4 linked regions of the Homo sapiens genome follow. The protein of the gene in region 4 interacts with the protein of the main gene of each other region in a biochemical or structural test. Each region holds a gene or a part of one and is shown on either strand. Other genes may lie near its edges.

Region 1 (5,148 bases), on a different chromosome or scaffold from region 4:
CTGTGGGGCTTTCTCCACCCAACCCTCACTTTGCACTTTCTCCTTTCAGATTCTACCTCTGCTTGTTTTCTGGGCCTTCGACCTTTATACCAGAGGTGAGGGACACTGGGTTTGCAGGCAGGCCTGTGTCTTTTGACTTCCAGGCAGTGGGGCTCAGCCTGCAGAGCCTGCTGGGAGAACACTGGTGGGGAAGCAGGGCCCAGCCCCAGAGTGCAGACCCTGGAGTGCTCACATCCTCTGGAATCTGGAGGCAGAGACCTCTGCTCTGCAGGTCCCAGAAAGGCGTGTCAGTTCCTTCTCGTGGGACTGGACCTCGTCCCTGTCGGAAGGGTCAGGCCTGGGTGCCTGGGCTTCTGGAGTGGGGCAGATGGTTTGAGAACTCTCCAGGGTGACCTGAGTGCACTTTGGTTCCTGCAGGGGCTGAGTGAAAATCAGGATGAAGTTGAACCCAGGGAGTCTGTGTTCACCAATGAGAGGTAAAGCAACTGCTGAAGCCTGCCCCGGCTGCAGCGGGGGCTGCCACATTTGTTAGACATGGACTTTCTCTCTGCCCTCACCCAAGCCTCTCAGGTCACATGCAGCAGGGACACCAAGGTGACGGTAGAAACATCAGGTCCCATTTGGACTGTGCCTGTTTGGGGCTAGGGGTTTGGGGTCCTGGATGTCTGGGTGCAGCCATGCAGCCTGGACTCCCTTTGTGAGCCCACACATGCCCCTTCCCCTTGCCACGCCTGGCAGGCTGTCTCCTTCTTTTCTGATGCTGCCCTCCACCTGCATCTGGGACCCTCTCCCTTGGGTGCTGTGGCTCTCCCTTCCTTCCTGCATCCTCATCTTGACTCTCCTGGGTCACTGCTGTCGGCACACAGACATGCTGCACAATTTCTCCTTTTCTAGAAAAGTTCCTTCCTTAACCCCATAACAACAACTAACCACCCCGTTGTTGCTTCCCTTCATAGCAGAACTCAGACCTGCCTCTTCTTCCCCTCCCACCATTCTCTCAATCCACTTCTCAGGCTGACAATTCTGTCTCATCACAAATTGTTCTTGTCAACTCCACCACCAATTTCCATCAAGCCACATCTGGTCACTTGTGACTTTTTTTCATGTCCTTAATGTGCCTGCTCGGTAGGGTCAAAGACAGCAGTGCGCTCCCTCCTTGACGCTTCCTTCACTTGGCCTTCCACCCACCATCGTGGTTTCCTCAGCCTTCCTGGCTGCTCCTCACTCCACTGCTGCTTCCTCTTCGAGTGCTGGGCCCAGCCTGGATTGGATCCCTTCTCTACCTGTGGTGCTGTAAATGCCAGCCGGAAGGTCCTAATTCCCAAATGTGTATCTTCAGTCTCTTGCCACCTGGGGTTTCCCAATGCCCCCTCAGTGTCTATACCTGGAGTTTCCATGGGTAGTCTCTCTCTGTTACCCAGGCTAGAGTGCAGTGGTGGAATCTTAGCTCACTGCAGCCTCGAACTCCTGGGCTCAAATGATCCTCCTGCCTCAGCCTCCCAAGTAGCTGAGACTACAGGTGCATGCCACCATGCCTGGTTAATTTTTAAAGTTTTTGGTAGAGATGAGGTCTTGCCATGTTGTTCAGGCTGATCTTGAACTCCTGGCCTCAAGCAATCCCCCTGTCTCGGCCTCCCAAAGTTCTGGGATGACTGATGTGAGCCACCATGCCTGGCCATCCTCCATTCTTTTTTTTTTTTGAGATGGAGTCTCACTCTTTCCCCCCAGGCTGGAGTGCGGTGGCTTGATCTCGGCTCACTGCAACCTCTGCCTCCCAGGTTCCAGCGATTCTCTTGCGTCAGCCTCCCGAGTAGCTGGGATTGCAGGCGCCCGCCCAACTAATTTTTTGTGTTTTTAGTAGAGACAGGGTTTCACCATGTTGGCCAGGCTGTTCTCAAACTCCTGACCTCGTGATTCGCCCGCCTCGGCCTCCCAAAGTGCTGGGATTACAGGTGTGAGCCACTGCGCCTGGCCTCATCCTCCATTCTTTACCATTCTTGATCATTCCTGTCTTTCCCTACATTTCACATCTTGTCAGCCTGTCATTGAGCCCTGCTGTCCGTCCCTCAGTGTGTATCCCCGTGCTGACCCTCCCTGCTTCCAACGAGCCTAATCCAGCACTGCCCCTAGCCTGGATTGCTGAACAGCTGCCTGTGTTGTCTCCTTGCCTTTGCAGTCTTTGCCTCTTTCAGATTATTTTCTGCATAGCAGCAAGACTGGTCTTTTTCTTTTTTTCTAAAATGTAAGTTGTATCTTGTCATTGCTCTTTTAGTGCCTTCATTGCAGTTGTGCTCCCCGCTCATGTTGATTTTCCTTAACACCCTTCACTGCTCTAAGTCATACACATACCAGTTGACTTGGTTATTATTTGTATCTCCAGCTAGAGTGAAAACTTGGTGAGGACTGGTATTATATCCCTGACATTAAAAATAGTGTCTTGTTAGTAAAAAGTGCTCAGTATTTTTCTGAATGAATAATTGATTATAAGGTAGTGAAGAGGGAGGTTATATCTGAGGTCCAGTTGACATGAGGGAAAGGTCTTAAGACCTTTAAGACATTTAAGAGGAAAAATGAGCCCAAAATGCATGTGTTTGGAAGGCCCACAGCTGGGCACAGCCATGCATGTTCCTCACGTCCACCATAGGTTTATGCTGCCTGACCCCTTGGGTCTTTGCTCATTTCCCTTAGTTTCCCTAGTCCATTCCCCATGGGGAGCTGGGACCCTTCTGGATGACCTCTTCTCTGAGGCGCCCATCTCGTGCTCCCAGGGAGCACTCCCATCTCCTCCCTCCCAGGGGAAGTACACATTGCCTTATCTCCATGTGTCTTAGGATCCTTCTTGTCCTTACACTGGTGTCTTCAAACGACATGTCCTAAAAGTAAATGTGGGTAAGTTGAATGACCTGAGCATCCATTCCTCAGCTATTCAAAAAGTAGGGGTAGTGCCACCTATCTTGGCAGTGTGTTGAGGGTGCCCAGCACGTACCTTGCCATCCCTCGTTCTGTAGGCTCTCACTTCCAGTTCCTCAGATGAGGTACAGGGCAGGGAGGAGCTTCTCCCGTTACTGTCATCTCAGTCTAACCACATTCAGGACACTTGTTTATTTTAAATAAACAGGTGAATTAAGAAAAAGTTTTTTAAGTCTTTACCTAATCAGTCTCCAGGCTCTCTTTTTGGCCTGTTCCTCCCTTCCTCCTGGCCGCCTCCCTCCCATGCCTCTCATGTGCCTCCTGCAGGGCTGGGCCCCCACTTCTCTTGGGACCTGTGCTTTGGGGCACTCCCCGTCTTCACCTCCTTCCTTTAGCTCCATTGATGACTTTCCCCCTTGCTGCTTCTCCCATGGCTCACCTCTTGCCCCCTGGTTCGCCACTCTGCCCTCACTTTGTACTCTTTGTAGAATCTTGAGATGACTCCTCCTGTGTCCCCAGCCCTGCTCTGCAGCTGCTCCTGCTTTGTGCTGGCTCATCAGGCTCAGGCATCCGAATGGCAGCTCCTTGGCTTGCCCTGTCTCTGGTTTCTACGGATGGTCACAGGGGTCTTCGGGGTTACCCCGCCCTCTTTCCTTCTTCCCTCATACCCCTCAGTCCTTCCTTTTCAGACCCTCCTTTCCATCCCTGTCTTCCTGCCCCCAAGCTGTGGGACCCTAAGCTCCTGCTGTGAACTGTCGACTGTGCTCTTGAAGTCTAGGTGATGATGTGTCATTGCATTGGTAGAAAGCGGCCTGCTTACTGCTGCTTAGCTGCTTCCCGAAGAGGGAACAGACTGCTCGCTGGTGTTTAGGTCTCCATGCCCGGCCCAGCTCTCTCCTCCTCTGCCCACCCAACAACCTCTGTGGCCCGGATGGATGTTATCAGGAAGGAGGGTGTCCAGAGCGGGGAATTGTGTTATAGGGAAGGTGGAGCATTTGAGAGAAGGGGCATCCGAGGCCACCAGACTCGGAGGTAAGCTTGCCATGGATTCACATGGGGGCCAGTCGGGCAGCCCCATCCATCAGCTGTCCATCAGCTCATAGCTGTGTCTCCGCCACAGGTTCCCATTAAGGATGTCGAGGCGGGGAATGGTGAGGAAGAGTCGGGCATGGGTGCTGGAGAAGAAGGAGCGGCACAGGCGCCAGGGCAGGTGAGTGCCAGCCTGGGAGCTGGCAGGGTGGGTGGGGGGTGGATGACTATTGCCATGAAGAGCTTCCCTTTATTTGAAGGGTCCAGGGCTGCTTTGATCTTTTTTTTCTGAGACTGTCCTATTCCTTTTCTGCACAGGGAAGTCAGACCTGACACCCAGTACACCGGCCGCAAGCGCAAGCCCCGCTTCTAAGTCACCACGCGGTTCTGGAAAGGCACTTGCCTCTGCACTTTTCTATATTGTTCAGCTGACAAAGTAGTATTTTAGAAAAGTTCTAAAGTTATAAAAATGTTTTCTGCAGTAAAAAAAAAGTTCTCTGGGCCGGGCGTGGTGGCTCACACCTGTAATCCCAGCACCTTGGGAGGCTGAGGTGGGAGGATCATTTGAGGCCAGGAGTTTGAGACCTGCCTGGGCAACATAATGAAACTTCCTTTCCAGGGAGGAAAAAAAAAAAAAAAAAAAGCTCTGAGAGCATCTTATTTTGTTTAAAGGCAAGAAATAAAATTTCCTTTTGTGGAGCTCTGGCATCTCCCAGCTCTGTGATTCTCACCAAACTCCAGTTCCTCCTGGTGGGCTACTGCTCGACTCCCCAGGCAGGAATCAGATTTAAAACACTTAGATGAAAGCATTCTTTCCATTTGCAAGGAACACAGAGTCCTTTAATTTAGGGCTTATATATAACTGTATCATAATCACACCAAGCAAAGTTGGGAAGAGGGCCCACATGAAATGTGTTCGTGGTGCCTGCTGGCCAGTCCGTTTTCCCTTCCTGTGAAGGCCTTGCCAGTCCAGCGGCCCCAGCTTGAACTGTGGCACTGAGCTGCACGGTCAGCTGCCTACCAGCCCAGTGCTTGGATGTCTTGGGCTGATCTCTTGTCCCGTCACTAGTGGTTGGAAAGGGAAGGTCCTGCTCTGGGGTAGTGTGGGACTGTCCAGCTGGCTGTGATAGGAGAGGAGGTGTAATGGTTGCTTGAGCCTTTTGGTCCATGTGGGAAGAGGGGCAAGATCCTGGGCATTGCAGTACAGAG
Region 2 (6,990 bases), on a different chromosome or scaffold from region 4:
GGATAGAATATCCTTGTTAGTTATATAAAAATAAACTTTTTTTTGCTTTTTGCAGATTTGAAATTTAATTAAGCTATTAACTTCTTAATCATCACATCCTCCAACTCTGTTTTAACTCCCCCCTCCCCCTCCCCTTTTTTTTTAAGGAATAAAGGGATTCATTCCTCATTTTAACTGATGTTACAGTGAAGATGGGTTCTTGAACTCTTGGAAGCCTGGATGAGCCACCTAATCTGCAAGATAAAAACCAAAGACCAATGCGTATTGGGGAAAAGAATGCTTAGTACTGCAAGACTGTTGAATACCTGTTGAATATTCCTATTGAGGTTTTTTCCTAAACATACTTCAGTAACATCTTAGGACAATTCACTGGAGAAATGTTGATCCCTGGCTGGAATGTCATACCATTGACCCATTTGAAGAGTTAAAGCTGGATTTGACTGCTCTATTCTACCAGGAATATTGTTAGGGTAGCCTTTTACCAGTTTCTAAACAATTGTAATCATTTATTGACTCAGCAATTCCTCAGATAACAGGTCAAAAGATGTACAGATACATTCTGAAGTTTTCTTGCTATTAAAGGCACAAGAGTTTCCTTGTATTTTGACTGACAATGTAGCATGTTTCCATTTTAGTTTGTTAGTGATGGTGGTTTTCCCTTTGAAAGCCATTTGGTATATTCACCATAACAATTAGTTTAATATGATTACATAAGAAAACTATGATAAAACCCAGCAATTTTAGTAGTTGTGAAAATACGTTTTTTAAATCATGTTTAAGAAGAATTGCAAGACTTGAAACCAAATCCTGATGGGGGAATTCTGTTTAATCCTGTTTAATCTGTTTAATTTCTGTTTAATCCTTAGTTTCTTAACCTGCATAGCTTATCCTGTATTGTACTTTTTTTCTTTTTTAAACTCCCAAACAAGAAGCTTGAAACTTTTCCTGTATTTTAAAATTGAAATTTGGTCACAGGGTATAGTCAGATTTTTATTAAGGTTTGGTTTGACAACCTTTAAAAGAAAGGTTTACCTCGCTAATACTTCTTAATAACATGCATCAAATGATATTCCCTATGGTGAAGTATATTCTCAAAGTTATGTTATCTTTCATTTTTGGCATTTGGTGCTTATGGACTTAGTACCCAGGCAACAAAGATCTATTATGCACCTACTCTCTTGTATGTTCGCTATTATTTCCCAAAAAAAAAAAGGGGCATATATGCATAAGAAATAAATATTAGAATTATTTTGTTTCTCCCACAAAGCCCATGGGAGATGGCCCAACAAATGTTTAAAAAGTAAAAGAAGCTGGGCACGGTGGCTCCCACCTGTAACCCCCACACTTTGGGAGGCCATGGCGGGTGGATCACGAGGTCAGGAGTTTGAGACCAGCCTGGCCAACACAGTGAAACTGTGTCTCTACTATAAATACAAAAATTAGCCAGGCATGGTGGCAGGCACCTATAGTCCCAGCTACTCAGGAGGCTGAGGCAGGAGAATCGCTTGAACCCAGGAGGCAGAGGTTGCGGTGAGCCAAGATCATGCCACTGCCCTCCAGCCTGGGTGACAGAGCGAGACTGTCTCCAAAAAAAAAGAAAAAAGAACTAAAAGAAAAGGAGCAGTTTATGATTGAAGAAAACATGACCTGGGCTGAAGAAGTGAGGATTGATTGGAGTGGGCTAGAATGAGCTATAGTTTCTAGCTCATTTGTAAGGAGGTAGACAAAGGAGCATTGGTGCCTCAGAGTGGGTGTCTGGTGAGAGGAAAAACGGTGCTTAAGAGATTTTCAGGCTATTGCTGTGGGACAGGCATATTTTCTCCCTTTGCCTTTAGCTGTAGATAAAGTGTGGTTATGACCTGAGGCTTCTTGTATTCAAACTTGGCCTAGGGCCTATGTAGAGGCCCTAGGGTCTACTTGTGGTGGAGGAGGGAAGTATTTGTAGAATGTGTAGGCTTGAGAAGTAAATAAAGCCAAAAAAGCATCACTTGCTTACATTTTTAAATGAGTCACAAAACAATCTTTCTAATGCGGCCGGTAAAGAAGTTTTAAAGGTCTAAGGTTTCTCTACAGAAATTACATGCTTCTCAGGTCTTTGTTTAGTAAAATAATACAGATAATTATGCTTTGAATGCATTTATTATTAAAGCTAACCGTTTTAATTTGTGTCAGAAATAATTTGTGCCTATGGTAGGATTAAAATTGTATTCTTTAGTTAAAGCAAAGCAATCTGTTTTTCATTGATTTGATAAATATGTGAATGCCTAATATGTTCTGCATATGTAAAAATGCAGAAACATGCTCATTTGAATTACTAATAATTATTTTAGTATGCTGAGAGGCTTTGAATTCACTGTACCACTCCTTCCTAGAGTCATTCAAAACAGAAAAAATTAGTTTTAAGTATAGATTCATGTTTTTCTGTTTTAAAAAGTTGAGCTAATACTTTTCACAAGAGACGAAATAACATGAGCCACTATAATTATTGGCTCAGTTCCACCCAATTTCCATATTTTGGGTGTAATTTAAAATTTTTGACTTGGAATTTTAACTTTTTTTTTGTTTTGATTTTTTACCAGGTTTCTAAGCATGAATTGAGGAACAGAAGAAGCAGAGCAGATGATCGGAGCAGCATTTGTTTCTCCCCAAATCTAGAAATTTTAGTTCATATGTACACTAGCCAGTGGTTGTGGACAACCATTTACTTGGTGTAAAGAACTTAATTTCAGTATAAACTGACTCTGGGCAGCATTGGTGATGCTGTATCCTGAGTTGTAGCCTCTGTAATTGTGAATATTAACTGAGATAGTGAAACATGGTGTCCGGTTTTCTATTGCATTTTTTCAAGTGGAAAAGTTAACTAAATGGTTGACACACAAAAATTGGTGGAGAAATTGTGCATATGCCAATTTTTTGTTAAAACCTTTTGTTTTGAACTATACTGCTTTGAGATCTCATTTCAGAAGAACGGCATGAACAGTCTTCAGCCACAGTTGTGATGGTTGTTAAATGCTCACAATTGTGCATTCTTAGGGTTTTTCCATCCCTGGGGTTTGCAAGTTGTTCACTTAAAACATTCTTAAAATGGTTGGCTTCTTGTCTGCAAGCCAGCTGATATGGTAGCAACCAAAGATTCCAGTGTTTGAGCATATGAAAGACTCTGCCTGCTTAATTGTGCTAGAAATAACAGCATCTAAAGTGAAGACTTAAGAAAAACTTAGTGACTACTAGATTATCCTTAGGACTCTGCATTAACTCTATAATGTTCTTGGTATTAAAAAAAAAGCATATTTGTCACAGAAATTTAGTTAACATCTTACAACTGAACATGTATGTATGTTGCTTAGATAAATGTAATCACTGTAAACATCTATATGATCTGGGATTTTGTTTTTATTTTGAAATGGGAGCTTTTTTGTTTACAAGTTCATTAAAAACTAAAAACTGTTTCTGTAAGGAAATGAGATTTTTTTTAAACAACAAAAAATGCCTTGCTGACTCACTATTAAATAAAAATCTCCCCAATTTTTTGATAGACTACTTCAAGCCATTTGTTACATGGTATTCCTTTGCAAGTCAATTTAGGTTTCGTGTTATAACTTTTCCTCTTTTTTTAAGAAAAATGAAAAAAGTAATTCTTTTGTCTGAAGGGGAAAGGCATTCTTTCATTTTTTTCTTTTTTTTTTTTTTTTTTTATGACTTGCAGGCACAATATCTAGTACTGCAACTGCCAGAACTTGGTATTGTAGCTGCTGCCCGCTGACTAGCAGCTGGACTGATTTTGAATAAAAATGAAAGCATTAAAGGGTTTCCCTACAAAACATTTTTCTTTAAAATACTTTTGAAATGGCTATAAGCAGTTGACTTTCACCCTTGGAGAGCATCACACTGTGTGAGGTTCAGTGATTGTTGACCCTCCCCAGCCCCTCCTGCTTCTTTAAGTTATCTGTGTGCGTGCGCTTCCTCTCAATCTTCTTTGCACGCTCATTTCTTTTTCTCTGACCCATGAGAAAGGAAAACTTACTGATGATAATTTTTAAATAGTGTAATTTATTCATTTATAGCATGTCAGGATAAATTAAAAGAACATTTGTCTGGAAATGCTGCCGGGAGCCTATTGTGTAAATGTAGGTATTTTGTAAAATAACCTTGAAATTGTAAATTGACACGTGTTTGGTCAGATTGTGTCAAGTTTAATTTGTTTTGTTTTCTTTTTTCTTTTTTTTATTTGAAAACTACTTTAGCAATAATTAATTCCATGATTATCACATTCTGCCATTAAGGGATATTAGTACCGTAATACTGAAGAAATTTTATTAAGTCTGAACTTCTGGGGTAGGCAGCTTCTTTGTTTCTTTTCTATCCACCCTTGTCGGTTGAGGTATTTGTTTCTTGACTAATAAACCCTTTGATACTTTTAGCCAGAAATCAGTCTCATAAAGCTATTTTTGAGTATAGTTTGTGTAAAATAAAAATGTTTAGCTTTGGTAATAACTTCCAAGCTGAACTCCCTCTAGCAAGATATTTTTCAGTGCTTTTATTTACTATGCACTTAGACTATGCACTTTTTCTGAAATATTTTTGTAACACTTTTTTGTATTTTTGCCATTTGAAAAGGTTGTGGTGTAGTTGGTCTGTAATTAAGTTGCAGATTTAAAACTGCTGTTAGCTTTGTAAATCAAAATATAGGTGTTTTTTGTCCTGGTATATCGTCATTCCATCTGCAGCTGGAGCTGGAATCCCATTGATCTTCTAGCTACCATTCATTTTCTTCACTGTTCACAAAAGAAGAGTGTGAAATTCAGTGAATGCTGTTACTAATCCTGTTACGAGATGAATCTCATTTCACCAAAATTAAATTATGTTTTTCCGCTAAAATGATGATACAAGTTGAAGACACATCACTCTGAAATTGGAAGACCTCACCACTTAAGGCTCCACAGTGGCTTACTCAGCTGAACTCTAGGTTACTACTCTTTACTTTGTTCACCCATTGGGGGGTGCAGTTTTTTTAAAATGTTGGGAGATGGCCATTCTAACTACTGTTGAATGTCTCTGTTTTGGGAAGGTATAACAAGAAATAAAAAAGAATATATATGAAGGGAGAGACTGGTTATCTCCTCCCATATGGTTGTGCTTATCCTCTTATGGCTTACAAATGAATATTTGGAGGTTTGCTTTCACAATGATTTCCCATCAACAAATATTTTTAGTAGGATTTTTCCTGTTTCTGTTAGTCCTTGCAGTACTCATAAATGTTTTAAGCTGAGCATACTGTAATAGTCATAAGTTTAATTTCATTATAATAAAAATAATCAAACAAAAGGACTTTAGAACCCAAGACAATGAGCTAGTTTTCCCTAAAGTTTGCTGAACTATTAAGGAATATGTTCTTATAGCTTTTGACTAGAATGAGTCATGGGAATTCTAAGAAGGGATGGCCTAGACATTTTTAGCTCAGTTAAATTCAGCATTTAATGCAGGTGAGTTCCTGGGTCGTTTTCCAACTAGTCTGGAACAGTCTGGTTCTGACTCAAACTGGTATAAAGCATTATTTTAGGTTTTCTCTTTGCCAGTTTTTAAGCAGTTATAACCATGTAAATCAAGATGTGAGGACATCTATATGAAGTATAGTAAAGAAGTGGTGTCAGCAGATCAATATGTGTGTCCTGGGTGTGCTGCTCTCTTAAGTGAGACTTTGTGAGACTATACTTTAAATGCATTATTACCATTGCTTACATTTTGGGGGATTTTCTTCCTCCTCAAAACTTCCATTTCTATTGTAATATTCTTAATGACAATCTTTTTTTTTTTTTAGCAGTGTATGTTTGAAACAGCCAAAGATGGCGATGAACCAAGTGTAAATTGATCTAAGCAGCCCATGCAGTTTGTGTTGAATCAACAAACAGTGTATTGTTGAAGTGAAATTATTTTCTGAAATGACTTGTTAGACCAGTTTTGAGGACATACTCAAAAGTAGAGTAATAATGGCTCCTGGGATGGAGAAATATGAGATGAACCTGGAACATTCTATTATGGTGCCACAAAGGAAATCTAAAAAAAAAAAAAAAAAAAAAAGTGGTTGGCTAGGAGCAGTGGCACACGCCTGTGATTCCAGCACTTTGGGAGGCCGAAGTGGGCAGGAGTTCAAGACCAGCCTGGCCAACATAGTGAAACCCTGTCTCTACTAAAAATACAAAAATTAGCCGGGTGTGGTGGCGGGCGCCTGTAATCCCAGCTTTTCAAGAGGCTGAGGCAGAAGAATCGCTTGAACCCGGGAGATGGAGGTTGCAGTGAGCTGAGATCGTGCCACTGCACTCCAGCCTGGGCGTTGCAGTGAGACTCCGTCTCAACAACAACAAAAAGGTGGATACATGTCAAAAGGGCACAGGAGCCACTTGAAGGATTATACTTGCTAAATCTGTGTCAATTATCAAAATAAACTGGTAGCAACGTTACAACTCACTGAATAAGATACCATGATTCCATGTTGACTTAAAAATGGAGAGAAGAGAAAGCTCTAACTTGAATGTCAGCTAATTTAAGGTGAAAGGATTTTATGTGTTAGAAAAATCACCATTTTGCAAACTAGTTTTCAGAATCCTTAATATATGTCATCTCTTTTATTCCTCATAACAGTAATAAGAAACAGTTAACTGTTTCAGAAAAGAGTGGGGCTGCCCAAGGCAAGGCATGTTGGTAATTGGTAAGCTTTATAGAGCCAAGACCTCAACCTGATTTTCTTGCTTTCATGCAGTTAAGCCATGGTGCTCCTCTTGTTATATCACCCTTTTAAACCCAGAGATTGATAGTATTAGCCATCATTTGCTGAGTGTCATGCACTATTCTAAGTGCTTTACATGTATTTGCCTAATCAGCGCCCTGTGAAGTACATCCTGTCTCCATTTTGCATATAAGGATACCAAAGCACAGAGTTGGAGGGAAGATAGTTATATTCCCTTACTTTATTTATTTATTTTTTTGAGACAG
Region 3 (7,032 bases), on a different chromosome or scaffold from region 4:
TCTTTGAAGAATCCAGTCTAATACAATCACTTACTCAAAATCCTGAGCCTCTGTCACCCCTCTTTTCCTTTTAAGCTTCTGATTTAATTTTCCAAGTTTATTATTTAAATGGCAGTAGCCCTGTGACACAGATACACAGCTATATGAAAAAGGAACAAAATTCTCATGTTTTGCTTCAGGAATAAAACTTTAAAGATAAAGGTAGGCTTAAGATATAAGCCCAAACATGTACTGAAAAATGTTTAATAAATGTATTGCTGAACTAATTTTAATTGTCATATTACTATTTTGAAATAAATAAAACCAATATTTCATTTAACTACAATTTGATTCTGAATAAGCAATCCCAAATCCAAAAATTAAGTTTTAGAACTTTTCCTAATCTAAGCTGAGCCTGATTAATATTTACAAAAAAAAATTATTAAAAGAAAACATAATATCATTAGATAATTTTAACTACACATGAACAAAGGATAGAAGGCTCAAGGTACTAGAGAAAATTCACTGCAGATGTTTCATATAGAAAGTACATTTATTGCATGTTTTAATATTTACATGCCTTTACATAACTCAAACACACATCAGATGTGTAATTAGGAAAATATATGAGGAATAACTCATCCATCTAAAACCTGATCAATGTATCCAGAGACCTGCAATAATTTTAAAATCATCAGTTTGTATATATATATATATTTTTGAGACGGAGTTTTTTGCTCGTCACCCAGGCTGGAGTGCAGTGGTACGATCTTTGGCTTACTGCAACCTCTGCCTCCCAGGTTCAAGTGATTCTCCTGCCTCAGTCTCCCAAGTAGCTGGGATTACAAGCACAGGCCACCATGCCCGGTTAATTTTTATATTTTTAGTAGAGACAGGGTTTTGCCATGTTGGCCTGGCTGGTCTCAAACTCCTGACCTCAGGTGATTTGCCTGCCTTGGCCTCCCAGAAGTGCTGAGATTACAGGCATGAGCGAGCCACTGTGCCCAGCCATCAGTTTGTATTTTAAGGCAGAATTACTTGAAATTTAGTCAATAGGCTGCCTAGAATCAGGTCAATTGAAAAGGAAGCTATTTTGAGTTTTTAACAACAAAAAATTATTTGGCTTTCATTTTATACATCAAGGTGGCAGAATACAATTTTGTCACATCATTTGAAAAAAACATTCTTTTACTAGAATCTAACAAAGTATCAGTCTCAAGACTAAAGTTAAAAAGCAATCGACAGAAGTCTATACCTGAAAGGCCTGAATTCTCTATTTAATGACGACAAGGCAATTAGATGAGGGCATTCATCTTCATACTCGTCAGAGCCAGCAGGGACTCCTCCTTGAACTCTCTGACCATCTTGCCTGTTGTAATTTTCAGTTCTGTTTTTCTCCTCAGAAAATTCAGTTACAGAGTTGTTTTCAACAACCTGCCCTTTTATTTCTTCTAAAGCTTGATTGAATTCAGTCATTTCAAAACTCCGTGCATCAGCACTCTCTTCTGATAAACTGTCTTCCTTTATTTGTTCAGGGTCTCCAGATGATCTGCAATAGCAGCCCTCTGATTCTTCTAGACAGTTCCGTTCACTTTCATTTTCTGACCCGTAAACCTCTGCTTTTTCTGCCACTTCTCCATCTGAAAATGAGAATTCAGATCCCTCTTTTGTTTCAATATTTTTATCATCTGGACCTAATGGATGAAGCAGTTCATCATCTGCCTGCATTTCCTTTGTGTAGCCACTGGCAGAAACCTCCACATCAAGAGTGTCTTCTCTCCTAGAAAAAAAAGGCGTCAAGCATAGAAAGAGAGAAAAAATGTTTATCTAAGAGGAGCAAATATCTACTACTCTGATAAATTATGATTCAAGTGAGTTTAATAGCTTATATGTTAAAAATAAATTTTCCTTCCCTAAAATGTAATATTTAAATGACACAGGTAAACAAATATGAAAGGTATATGCTGGCTGTCATTTTAAGAATAAAATAACTGAAAAGCAACAATATAAATAAAAAGGTTATAAAAACCTCAGCTTATGTTTATTAACTTTGTAAATTAACTTTCAAAGGGGGCTAAGGATTTCCTTCAGATTATGTGACTCATCCCAGATCAGAAAATATCTTAAGTGTATAAAATAAATATGAGAAAACTGAGCTTTGAGAATGCACATGATAGTTATGTTTTGAGAATCAATTAAAGATACCTCCTGGTCCTTGATAAAGGAAAAACACAAATTTCAATGAATGTTTGGTGTTATTCCTTATGAATGAGTTACTCAAATAGCATCCAAAATAGAATAAAAGTTCTTGAATTTATAAGAATCTAGATATGTCCGCTTCCTAAAATTCAGTAACAGTGCCTTAATGGACCAAATGCAGGTATTTTCAAGTTTTTAAGTTTCAGTTATGTACTACAGAGCAATGACATCTAACAGTGATTACGTGTCAAAATTTGGAAAGTTTTTTAGATGAAAATGTTAATTTTTAGAAATACACAGACCAGATATTTAAACTGTTCTATTATGTAAAGCAATGGGGAGTACAAACCTGATATCCTTAAAAGTTGGAAAAAGCTCACTTTCGTAGCTGAAACGTTTCATAAAGAAATCTTTAATGCATTTAACATCTCTGTCAAAATACCTGCAAAAGCAAGAATCATTTATGATATAGTCTTTATTGCTCCTCTTTTTCCTTATTAGCCAATGACAATATACTTATTGGTTAATGGTATTGCTCCTCCTTACACAAGGAGATAAAAGATGTTACACAAAAGAAAAAAGATACAAATGAGTTAACCAGTGTGTTTGAAAAACTAAAATCCAAGGAAATCTCAAGGATATAAGCTGTCAATGCCATGCAGTTCCTACGGTTAGGAAAGTCAAGGTTTTGTCATAGTTACTGGTATATAGTTAGATACACTAGGGAAAGATGAATGTGAACCCCAGGAAATAAGATAATGGGCCTATGGTTTGGGGATAGGTTTCCACTTATTCTGTTCGTCCTGAGTCTGGCTATGCTTCTTATCAGCAACACTCACTAGAACCCCTAGCCAACTGAAAGATCTGACGATAAAAAGATATTAATATTAAACAGTTAAGTTTGGAGACTACTGAATTATGTTTATGTATCTTTGTTATCCATTAGCCGATTTGCAATAACACCCAAAGGGATAAATAATGCTACAGCCTATAAAAATAATCTGAGGACATGTTAATCTGGACCAAAAGTAGAACAATATCTGAATATCAGGCTGCCTTTTTGGGCCACCACAAAGCAGCAAAAATGGATTCAATTCTCTAGAAGATTTCCAGACAAGGGAGAATTAAGGACAGGATAATGTGCAATTGACTCTCTTTGAGAAAGATGAAGTTTGGAAATAGGAAGATAATGCCTCTCCTCTTTGCTCACAGGGTACTCTGGGAAAAATACTAATACATTTTAAAAAGACTATTTTATATATGTTTACATCTCCCTACGAGACAGTAACATTTTCTAAAGCATATATAGGGGTTATTTATATCTCAATCTCTAGCAATTAGCACAGCTCCTTGGCCCCAGAACTGGTTCATAAAAATTGAAATTAAATCACAATGTCTCTCCATAGAACGATGCAGCCTAAACCTAGAATGTCATAATCTGTCACACTCTGGAGGCTCCTAGATGTTCCTTTACTGTGTGACTATGTTACTCCTTATTAATAAAAATCATGATTAGTCATCATCCAAAGAGTACTGACCACCCCAGTGCCAGGCATTAATCTTTTAGTATTATTTTGTTGAAAACGTTTTAAAAATTTATTTTCAAATGACATTTCTTTCTGTAGCATAAGTATAGACATTTTCTACTGGAAACCAGGATGAAGAGACGCTTCACTTAACAAAACTACTTCAAGCTCAATCTCTGGAAGAATTAATATACTCTATTATATAAGTGATACTAGTTGTTAGTTTAGGAAAAAAGTTTCTCATAAAGCTTGGAACAGAAAGAAAAAAAAATCCTTAGTTACACTCAATTGAATCATAAACCTCAAGCAAATAAAGGATAAGGTCCTGTTTCATGACTTGGCTGGCTTGGTTTAAATAAGTAATGTGAAGAATATGATTATCGCAGTATATCATGATTCTGCACTGTGTCAGAGATAAAGTTTTATGTGATTTTTTTTCTAATAAATAAAGCTAAAAGTGACAAGAGGTAATTATCACTGGTTTGACAACTGAGTCCAGTCCAAAACCACAACTTTTATTCAGATCATCGAGATTACTGAGTTATACTTGGTGAATCTCTCTTGGAGGCAATCATGGAACAGCAAGAAAAAGGGAAAGACAAAAGTGGTTCTAGAGTTCCCCACTACACTCCCTACTTTTACCTGTTTTAACAATTGGTCTTCCATCTAAAAGTCTGTTTGAACAAAGGGTTCCATGGCTAAGAAAATTTGACTTTTGAACGTCTGTCAATTTACAACAGAGAAATTCAAATTCTTATGGGGAAAACTCTAGTAGTTATACTTTAATAAAAAACCAAATTTTTATAACGTTAACACTAGCCACTTCAAACCAGTGACTGACCTAAATAATAGTATCACAAAATTGAAAAATTATGAAAAAATGATTATATTCTAAACAAACACACCCACATCCAGAATCAATAATAGCATGTAAGGGCCGGGCGCAATGGCTCACCCCTGTAATCCCAGCACTTTGGGAGGCCGAGGCGGGTGGATCACCTGAGGTCAGGAGTTCAAGACCAGCCTGACCAACATGGAGAAACCCCATCTCTACTAAAAAAAAAAATACAAAAAATTAGCCAGGTGTGGTGGCACATGTCTGTTATCCCAGCTCCTCGGGAGGCTGAGGCAGGAGCATTGCTTGAACCCGGGAGGTGGAAGTTGCAGTGAGCCGAGATCGCGCCATTGCACTCCAGCTTGGGCAACAAGCAAAACTCCGTCTCCAAAAAAATAAAATAAAATAAAAATAAAAAAATAGCAAGTACGTACCACTCAGCATTGGGATGAGAAGTTGAAACCATCTGTGGAAAATCAATCATGGTGATATGGTCACTTTCATCCAAAATGAGATTAAATTCATTAAAATCTCCATGAATCAGCCCATGATTTGCAAGTTTGACAATTAGTTCCATAGCTTCATCATATACTGATGCAGGATCTTCAACATGGTGTATCTGACATCTGAAAGTATTTTAAGCATGAAAATAGGTTACTTGTGTTCATTTACGGTTTTAACGAAAGTATGTATGCATGTGAACATATATATTATTTCCATGCTGTGTATCCCCAGCAGCTTTCTTCTCATTCCCATCAGCACACAGATATAATATCTCCCATCTATTAAAAAAATAGCCACACTGCTTCAATTCTGTATCTCTTTTCTACTACTACCTTTCTTTGATCTTTACAGCCAAACTTGTCTACATGTGCTTTTCCAATTTGTTTCCTCCTACTCTCTCATACCATTTCAAACAGGCTTTTTATAACGTTAACACTAGCCACTTCAAACCAGTGAGTGACCTAAATAATAGTATCACAAAATTGAAAAATTATGAAAAAATGATTATATTCTAAACAAACACACCCACATCCAGAATCAATAATAGCATGTACGGGCCAGGCGCAATGGCTCACCCCTGTAATCCTAGCACTTTGGGAGGCCAAAGTGCTTCCAAGATCACCCTTGTTGAGACTACAATGACTTCAATGTTGCTAAATCCAAAGGTCAATTCTTAGTCCTCATCATATGTGGTCTGTCAGTTGACCTCTTTGAACATTTTCTTCACTTAACTCTTGGGACACCATTCTCTCCAGGTGTTCTTCCTTCCTCACAGATCATACCTTCTTAGTCTTTTCTATTTGTACTTCATCTTTTTCCTTGACCTCTAAATTCTGGAGTTCCTCAAAGGTCAATCCTATGACCTTTTATTTTCTCTTATTTAGACTCATTCTTGGTGATCTCATCTAGGTTAATGGTTTAAATACCACATATACACTGATTTTAATGTAGACTTCTCTAACTCCCAGGCATCTCAAACTTAGCATGTCCAAAATGGAATCTCTGATTCTGTCCCACCCTCCAACTCCAAAATGCTGTTCCTGTAGCTTTCCTGTTTCTATACATGGTAGATTTCTCCTTCCAGTTAATTTGCTACTCAGGGGAAAAACCTTGGTGTCACCATTGACTCATCCCTTCCTTCACATCCATATCCAATCTCAAATCATGTTGGTTCAACCTGCAGAACACATTCAGAATCTGACCACTTTTCATCACCTTCACAACTATCACTGTAATCAGAATTACAACCATTTCTTGCCTAGATTATTGTAATAGCCTCTTAACTTGTCTTCCTAATTCTTTGTCTCCCCAGAGTCTATTAATTCAGCAAGCAGAGTGACCCTCTGAAAACACTGAGATCACTGATTGATGAGATCACATCTCTTCTCTGCTCAAAATACTCCCACTCCAATAGCTGCTAATCTGAATCAAAATTTGATGAGGTTTCACCTTATTAGTGAGACTTTTCTTGACCACCCTACATAAAACAGTAGTCTCCTGTCCCGTTAGTACTTCCTATCTCCCTTACTCTGCTTTTTTTTATCCATAGTACTTACTAACAATTGATATACATTTCCTTTAGTTATTTATTGCACATCTCCTTCCATCAGAATGTAAATTCCATGAGGGCAGGGACTTTGTTTTGTTCACTGCTGAGATTAAAAGTTCCTGGCACCTAACAGTCTCTTAATATTGAATGAATGAATGAATCACAGAGATTACAAAGTTCATATTGTCAGAATGAAACTGGGTTTTTAATTTGTCTTTGAGTCTATTCCTTTAAATAAATTTTAACCTCCCAGAGGCAATATTTCATTAACTAAAAAAAATTTTATTAAAAACCCTGAAACTTAAATTCATTTATCAGGATTCATGGCTTTAAGAATAATGAATACTTACAGTGGATAACCATTTATGAGTTCCATGACCACTGCATGACGATTGTAATCAATTGGCTTTGGAACTGGAAATTTCCTCTCATACAATGCC
Region 4 (7,032 bases):
GGGTGGCGTATTCTGACCCCCTTCAGAAACCTCTGTTGAGGTCGATGCTGCCTTCCCTGCCAAGGTCAGTGAGGCTTGCACATGAATGGGCTGGGCAGCACGGGGGTCAGGGACGGGGGGGTTCTGTCTCCTCACGGTTTGGTCGGCAGCTGACTTGGAGGAACTGAAATCTTCATGCAGGGATGAGTGTGGCTCAGAACCAGACCTGGCAGAGAGGCTGCTGAGATGACTAGTTCTGATGGGATGTGGTCAGTCTGAGCTGAAAGAGCTGTCAGGCTGGGAGCTGCCTATCCTTCATCTGCTCAGCTGCAGGTTTCTTCTGTGACACAGGAGAATGTTGTAGAAAGAGTAAGACGAAATGGTTGGGAAGGAAATTTGGTTCTTGAGATACTGGTCCTGACTCCTGAAGAACCAGGAGTGAAGCCCGTCTGGTGATTGAAGGCAGGGAGCAGGTGGGCCTGGGCGCTGCGGGTCTGCCCTGGAGCTCTGGAACCGGAGGCTTCTGCTCTGGGAGGTGAGGGTTGTTTCCCCCAGGTCCTCCCGGGCAGAGAAGCTGGGGAATCCAGGTTCTTGTCTTGCATCTTCTCCTCACCTTTAACGTCCCTCTGAAACCACAGAGCAAGTCTCACACCTCTTCTTTTCGTCCGTTTTTGTTGGGGACATTAGGACTGGGCGTTCATCAACACCAACATCTTTGCCAGGACCAAGATAGACCCCAGCGCCTTGGTGCAGAAGCTGGAGCTGGACGTGAGGAGTGTCACTTCCGTCAGGAGAGGTGAGGCAGGCTCGAGTGCACGGAGCGTCCCTTCCATCAGGAGAGGTGAGGCAGGCTCGACGGGTTACCATGCTGATACCCAGCAGGTCTGGGATTGTTCCCTCAGGCACCCGAGGTCTCAGCAGCTTTCCAGCTAACCTGTACCTGACAATGTCCTTGAGCAAGGGATGCCCCTGGCTGTTTCTTGGGGCGATTCCCCAGAGTAGATTACAGCTGTGGTTTTGCCCCTGGGCTGCATCATGTCTCCGCAGCTCTGCAAGAACTGCTCTGCGTCCTGGCAGCCACGCTGAAGCCACAGGAACTTGGGCTTTGGTGACCAACAGGGTTTGAACTGTTTTCTCCGTGTGTGCTGATTCTTTCGGTCTGTCTGTATGTTTGGGGCAGTTTTGATCCTTTTCTTAAACAAGTGCTTTATGTGTTGCAGAGGTTAGCTGCTTATCATTTTGTACAAATAACTCTTGAGGGTTTAGATCCTGAAGCCGAAGCAGGGTCCTCTCAGTTTCATCAGATCCATGCGCAGCCCTTCCCGTCTCCTGGTTGTGCTCCTTGCAGCCCTGCAGCACACACGTCAGCCTGGCCAGTGAGAGGGTCTGGGAACTCCCACTCACTCCAGTGTCCGGAGCTTAGCAGGGAACGCCGTCCCCCTGCACCTCCTACTGAGTCTGAGGTGTTTTAGAGAGTTCCCGGCCACCATGGTCAATGCTGGGAGTGTTGACTTTCTGGCTGGAGGATGGTGAGCAGTGTCACTTCCCAGGGATAAATCCAGGAAAAAGCTTCCTTCACTCATCTAAGGGAGTCGGTGAGGAGCACAAGGAATACTTTTTACATCTTGACAGCCTTGGGAAGTCATAGGTTGGGGAGGGAGAGGGCCTGGCTGTGGGGGCAGAGCTCAGGGCACCAGTGTGACAGTGAAGACTGCATGTGGCTTCACAGTCGGCAGAGCTGGGAGCGCCAGGACAGGGCAGGAGCCGGGTCTGGGGCCTGTAGATGGCCCGTTAAGATCGTGGGCTCTGGGCCTCTGCCCCTCACCGCCTGGTAGCCTCTGGCTGGACACTTGATCGCTCTGGGCCTGGGCTTTGCATCTGTCAAAGGAGGTAACAGTATTTATCTCCTAAGTTCTGGCAGTTTTGAGTTTGAGATGAGGTAGTTGGTGTGAAACGTTTAAAACAGTGCAGTGAAGGCTGTGGAGGCGCCCGCTCTGCATCTGTTGAACGAGGCTGGTCTGGTGGGAAGGCTGGGGACGAGTGGGTTTTGCAGCTGCCCAGAGGTGGGCCAGCCCTAATTCCTTGGGCACAAGTCATGTGATCACGGGTGCTCTGTGACCCTTAGCTCCATTGTCCACAAAGCGGCGACAGACATAGCTCATAGATGCTAAGGGCCTCACTGTGCCTCTAGAAAGATCCAGGTACATTTAACCAGTGCAGGTTTCCTGCTCCTTCTCTCCAAGGAGGACCTGGTGAGGTGACCAGGCCAGGTAACTCCAGAGAGAAGCTGTGCCTTCCAGCCAGGAACGCTTGATGTGGGTGGTCCGCCCGAGCTGTGTCCCTGGTTGCTGACAAGGCCCTTAAGGCTGTCCCCAAGGGGATGGGAGTCGTGGGTCTCAGTGACCTGGCTCTGGCCTGAGCTTCTCAGAGCTCTTTCACACAGCAGCCTCTTTCCTCTGCCTTTTCTTGGCCCTCTCCCTTCAAGCCCCTGTGGCTCATCTGGTCCCCAAGGTCACCTGCTGCACTGACTGTCACGTCCCCTCTTCCCCTCCTAATTTAGGGAGACGTCACGCTCACGACCCGTCTTGCCTACCAGGGAAACTCCTCTTTAGCAACATCTGGCCTCGCAGCGTTCTTGGGCTGAGGTCGTGCCCAGCAGCCCTGTGGCCTCTCCTTTGAGCCATGCTGGATCTTTGTTTTTGTTTGTTTGTTTTTTGTTTGTTTGTTTGTTTGGAGACAGAGTCTTGCTCTGTCGCCAGGGTGGAGTGCAGTGGCTTGATCTTGGCTCACTGCAACCTCCGCCTCCTGGGTTCAAGTGATTCCCCTGCCTCAGCCTCCTGAGTAGCGGGGACGGGACAACAGGCACATGCCACCACGCCCAGCTAACGCCACCACGCCCGGCTAATTTTTGTATTTTTAGTAGAGATGGGGTTTCACCCCGTTGGCCGGGATGGTCTCGATCTCTTGACCTCAGAGATCTGCCTGTCTTGGCCTCTCAAAGTGCTGGGATTACAGGTGTGAGCCACCACGCCCGGCCTGGTCTTTGTTTTTCGTAAGCTCAAACCTCATTAATTTAGAGTAACTGGTGGGAGAGGGTAGAAGCTTGAACTTTACAATGTCAAAGATTGATTTCAAATTTCAGAACCATGTTATCAGAGTAGAGCATAGAAGTGTTTTCTTGAAATAATTGAACAATAAGTTGAAAAAATTTGAAGATTCTATTGTTTGTGAGTCTGTTGGGTAATTAATTTTTTTCTTAATTCACATACCCTTATTTGTGCATAAAAATCTTAAAGCTTGTGCTGACGGGACTGTAGCGTGGCCCGTTCTGGCGCTCCCCAGCCCTGAGCTCGTGCTGACAGTAGCGTGGCCCGTTCTGGCGCTTCCTGCTTGTGTGCAGGTGTTTCCCATAGCCCGCCTTGAGGGGCACGAGGATGGGAATTATTTGAGCCGTGCGGCAGGGTCAGGGTTTTGGGTGTTGGGGAGGAGCCTTGGCCTGGGGAGGCACTTAGTGCTTCTGGCCAGGAGCCGGTGGCTTTGTGCACTGCCCATGGCTGTGATTTCTGCCTTGGTGCCCCAGGGGGATTCAGGAGAAGGTGCTCCAAAATGGTGCCTTGGAGGTTGTCCCTGAGGTGTGTTCCAGGAGGCTGTCCTGTGGGAGGGGCGTTCTGAGCTCATCGCCGCGGGCCCCCATTACAGCCCTCCTGGAGCGAGGCCTCTGGCCAGCCGTCTCTGGCTGTGGCTCTCAGCCCAGGGTTCTGGTGCATATTCCTTCCACCGCCCTGCTGTGGGTTTTCTGCACTGAAGAGCCCCGGGCTGGATGAAGGGGACCATGGGACCTCACAGAGGGCTCAGACGGAGGGACAGGCCTCCACTTCCCCTGCCCTGGGATGTGAAGCACCAGCTTGGCAGGGTGGCAGGGCCCACAGACCCTCATGGGTGGGACCTGCAGACCCTTAGAGGAGTAGCCCCACAGGCGGAGGGGCTTGCCCTGGTCTGGGGGCCCCAGCCCCTTTTCTTCAGGCCTCCGAGGTATCCAGGCGCCTCAGTGGGGTCCTTTGCATCTTGGCTGCTCCTCACCATGTTCCTCCCTCTCTCCAGGAACAGTTCTGTTTTTTTGGTGTGGTCTCCTCAGCTCCTGATTGGCTGGTGCCCTGCGTCCCTACCCCCACCCCACCCCGGGTTTGTGCTGGGGCCTGAGTGCCCATGTCATGCAGATACTGCATCCTGTGACTTGGCCGCCACCCTTCAATGACCCGCCTGGCTATGGAGGTGAGGTGGCGGCCTGTGGGTGCCTGTCTGCCTGGCTTAGTGCAACACCGCCTTCCCAAGATGTGTCTCATCGTCCGTGCCCTGCCTGAGTCAGGAATAGCACTGCATGCTGCGTCTCTGGCCAAGGAGCTGGGTGGCCCAGGGGAGGGGTCTAGGCTGTGGCCCATCACCTGGTGGACACCCGTGTGCCCATCTGCACCCCTCCTCCCCCACTCTAGCCCTGGGAAGTGGTGGGGCTTGTTAGTCCCTGTGACTGACAAGTTCGTGGCATCGTTCCTATCCTGTGACTGACAAGTTCATGGCATCGTTCCTATCCTGTGACTGACAAGTTCATGGCATCGTTCCTATGTTTTTTTTCAAGCCCTTCGGATCCCAGCTCGCCAGGAAGCCACATCTGACCCCCTGTTCCCTTCCTGTGCCCTGGAGCCTGCCTTACCCTTACGGGCATCCTGGGAGGGACCCTCTGAGCTCTGCAGCCTCCTGCTACGGGAGGAGGAGGGCATGGGTGCAGGGCTGAGGCTGGCCTAGAGTCCCCTCCCCGCCCCAGCTCTCTAAGACCCCCTGCACCTCCCCAGCAGGACTCAGCTTTGCCTGTGGGCCGGGTTGTGCATGCAGGGGCTTTGCGGCAGCCTGTGGACCCCATGTCGGGGCTACAGCTCCTCCATGTCCGCTCTGGGGGTGGCGAGGGACCTGTGGCAGAGCCGGGGTGAGCACCCGTCTCCTGAGCCTCCCCCAACGCAGTGCCACCTGCTGTGCGTGCTGTGTGGCCAGCTCTAGCTGGCTTGTGCAATACCAGAGCCTGGCAGCCGGCCGGGTGTCCAGTGGTGGCTGATCCTCCAGCCTTGGGCACGGCTCCAATCCTTGGCATCGGACATCCGGGGAGCTGGTCATGCAGCATCGGGCGATCGGGCATCCGGGGAGGTGGTCGTGGAGCATCGGGCGGTCCGGGAATCTGGTCGTGGAGCATCGGGCGGTCCGGGGAGCTGGTCGTGAAGCATCGGGCGGTCCGGGGAGCTGGTCGTGGAGCATCGGGCGGTCCGGGGAGCTGGTCGTGGAGCATCGGGCGTCCGGGGAGCTGGTCGTGGAGCATCGGGCGTCCGGGGAGCTGGTCATGCAGCATCGGGCGGTCCGGGGAGCTGGTCGTGGAGCACCGGGCGTCTGGGGAGCTGGTCATGGAGCACGCTTAGAATTGGATTTCTAGTTCTGTGTTCCTTCATACCAGAAAACGAGCCCACCTGTTTTCAGACAGGCACTTGGGACTCAAGCTCAGAGACACAGGCAGGGTGGGGCAAGGCCTGGTATGGACTCAGAGCCGGGTGGGGCTGGGGGCCCCTGGAGCAGAGGATGTTGGGAGGCCTGTCACCATTGCTGGAGAGGGAGCTCACAGCATGGTGGACGGCTTGGGGGCGGTGGGGGCATGAGAGGCGCCGGTGGTGGTACAGGATTTTGGGGGTGTTGCTTTTCTGGCCAGATACCTGTGGCCGGTGGCACCTTTGCTTGAGTTTTGTCCAGGCCCACTGGGCTCATTTCACCTACTTGGCCTGGCAGGCTGAGCTCAGCTCATGCTACTGGCCTGGATCTCATGCCTCCAAGGGAGACTGGAGTCAGGCGTGGAGCGGTGAAGTGTGTGTGTGAGCAAGTGTGGGGTCCGGCCATTGCAGGCCAGCGCCAAGCCACCCTCAGCCCCCGCCTTGGCTTCCTCCCAGAGCTTGTTGATGCCCAAGGTCCAGAGGGGGCCAAGGTGGCAGGGCCTGAGTGTGTGCACACCCGGCCGGGCTCTGACAGCACCTGGGCTCAGCCCCAACCCCCCTTTGAGATTGGAGTGGGCGTTGGAAGCAGGGAGAGGCCAGGCAGCAGGAGCAGGCATCTCTGAGTCTGCAAGGGTAAGAGTGCAGAGAGGCCAGGGTCCCGAGCCCCGACTTGGCTGCTGCTTGCTCCCGCTCCTGCTGGCTCTGTGGAGCATGCAGCCCTGGCTCCCCCTCGCACGGTTTGTGGCCTTGCCCGGGGGCTGCTCCTGATCAGGGAGTGGATTGTGGGCCCTGGGCCCTGGGCCCGGCTGTCAGGAGTGTCGGGCCTGGCAGTCACACCGATGTGGGGTGGATCCTAGGGATGCAGCCCAGGCGGCCCTGCACCATAGCCTCCTCCAGAGGAACCCAGCACCCTCGGCCGGGTGGACACAGGGACCACACTGCTGTCCGGGTCCCCAAAGCGCGGCCCCAGCTCCGCCTACCCCCCAGAACCCTCTGTGCAGCAGCAGCAGGCCAGAGCGCACCATGGAGCCAGGCTCTGAAGCCACAGAGGCCTACTCTTAGACGCCGGGCACAGGGCACCCACCGCCGCCATTGCTGCTCCGGCAGCCACTCCTGCCGCTTCTGCCTGCGCCTTCCGGCTGTGTACGACCTGCTGCTGCTGTCAGTGGAACACGTCTGCGTCTGCAGGCGTGTTGGACTGGGTGACGAGGCCACCAGGCTGTGGTGCAAGGACATCCCAAGCTCCTGCACCCAGCCCTTGGGCAGGGCTGGCTCTCCCGGTCAGCACAGAGCGCTGCCCAGGTGATTGTACCTGCTTAGACCCCACTCCACCCCCAGGCACCTGCGGTGGAGGGACCTGCGGTGGAGGGCGCGACCTTGGCTTCCTGGCCGTCCCTCTGCCCTGGTGATCTGGCCAGCAGAGGGCAGCAGAGCTGTGTCCTTGTCAGGTCAGCCCAGGTGTGGGACAGTCCCGGGATAGAGACGCAGGCTCTCCCTCCTGCCTTGCACAGCGGAGACTTGGGAAGTCCCA

The links.
Region 1: the proteins of SLX9 (region 4) and BUD23 are reported together in a solved structure, tested with the Homo sapiens proteins (one study listed by BioGRID).
Region 2: the proteins of SLX9 (region 4) and CSNK1A1 are reported together in a solved structure, tested with the Homo sapiens proteins (one study listed by BioGRID).
Region 3: the proteins of SLX9 (region 4) and RIOK2 are reported together in a solved structure, tested with the Homo sapiens proteins (one study listed by BioGRID).

The regions. Positions count from the first base shown.
Region 1 is NC_000007.14:73,693,575-73,698,722, forward strand, and holds the end of BUD23 (18S rRNA (guanine-N(7))-methyltransferase), read left to right. Parts: intron 1-49; coding exon 50-95; intron 96-417; coding exon 418-476; intron 477-3,891; coding exon of another isoform or gene 3,892-3,942; intron 3,943-4,030; coding exon 4,031-4,120; intron 4,121-4,257; coding exon 4,258-4,312; 3' UTR 4,313-4,638; downstream 4,639-5,148.
Region 2 is NC_000005.10:149,492,450-149,499,439, reverse strand, and holds the end of CSNK1A1 (casein kinase I isoform alpha), read left to right. Parts: intron 1-2,579; coding exon 2,580-2,587; 3' UTR 2,588-6,458; downstream 6,459-6,990.
Region 3 is NC_000005.10:97,166,233-97,173,264, forward strand, and holds part of RIOK2 (serine/threonine-protein kinase RIO2), read right to left. Parts: intron 7,032-7,032; coding exon 6,943-7,031; intron 5,166-6,942; coding exon 4,974-5,165; intron 2,621-4,973; coding exon 2,528-2,620; intron 1,760-2,527; coding exon 1,235-1,759; coding exon of another isoform or gene 1,207-1,234; exon of another isoform or gene 514-1,206; intron 1-513. UniProt on the Homo sapiens protein: Serine/threonine-protein kinase involved in the final steps of cytoplasmic maturation of the 40S ribosomal subunit. Involved in export of the 40S pre-ribosome particles (pre-40S) from the nucleus to the cytoplasm.
Region 4 is NC_000021.9:44,943,018-44,950,049, forward strand, and holds part of SLX9 (ribosome biogenesis protein SLX9 homolog), read left to right. Parts: intron 1-666; coding exon 667-820; intron 821-7,032. UniProt on the Homo sapiens protein: May be involved in ribosome biogenesis.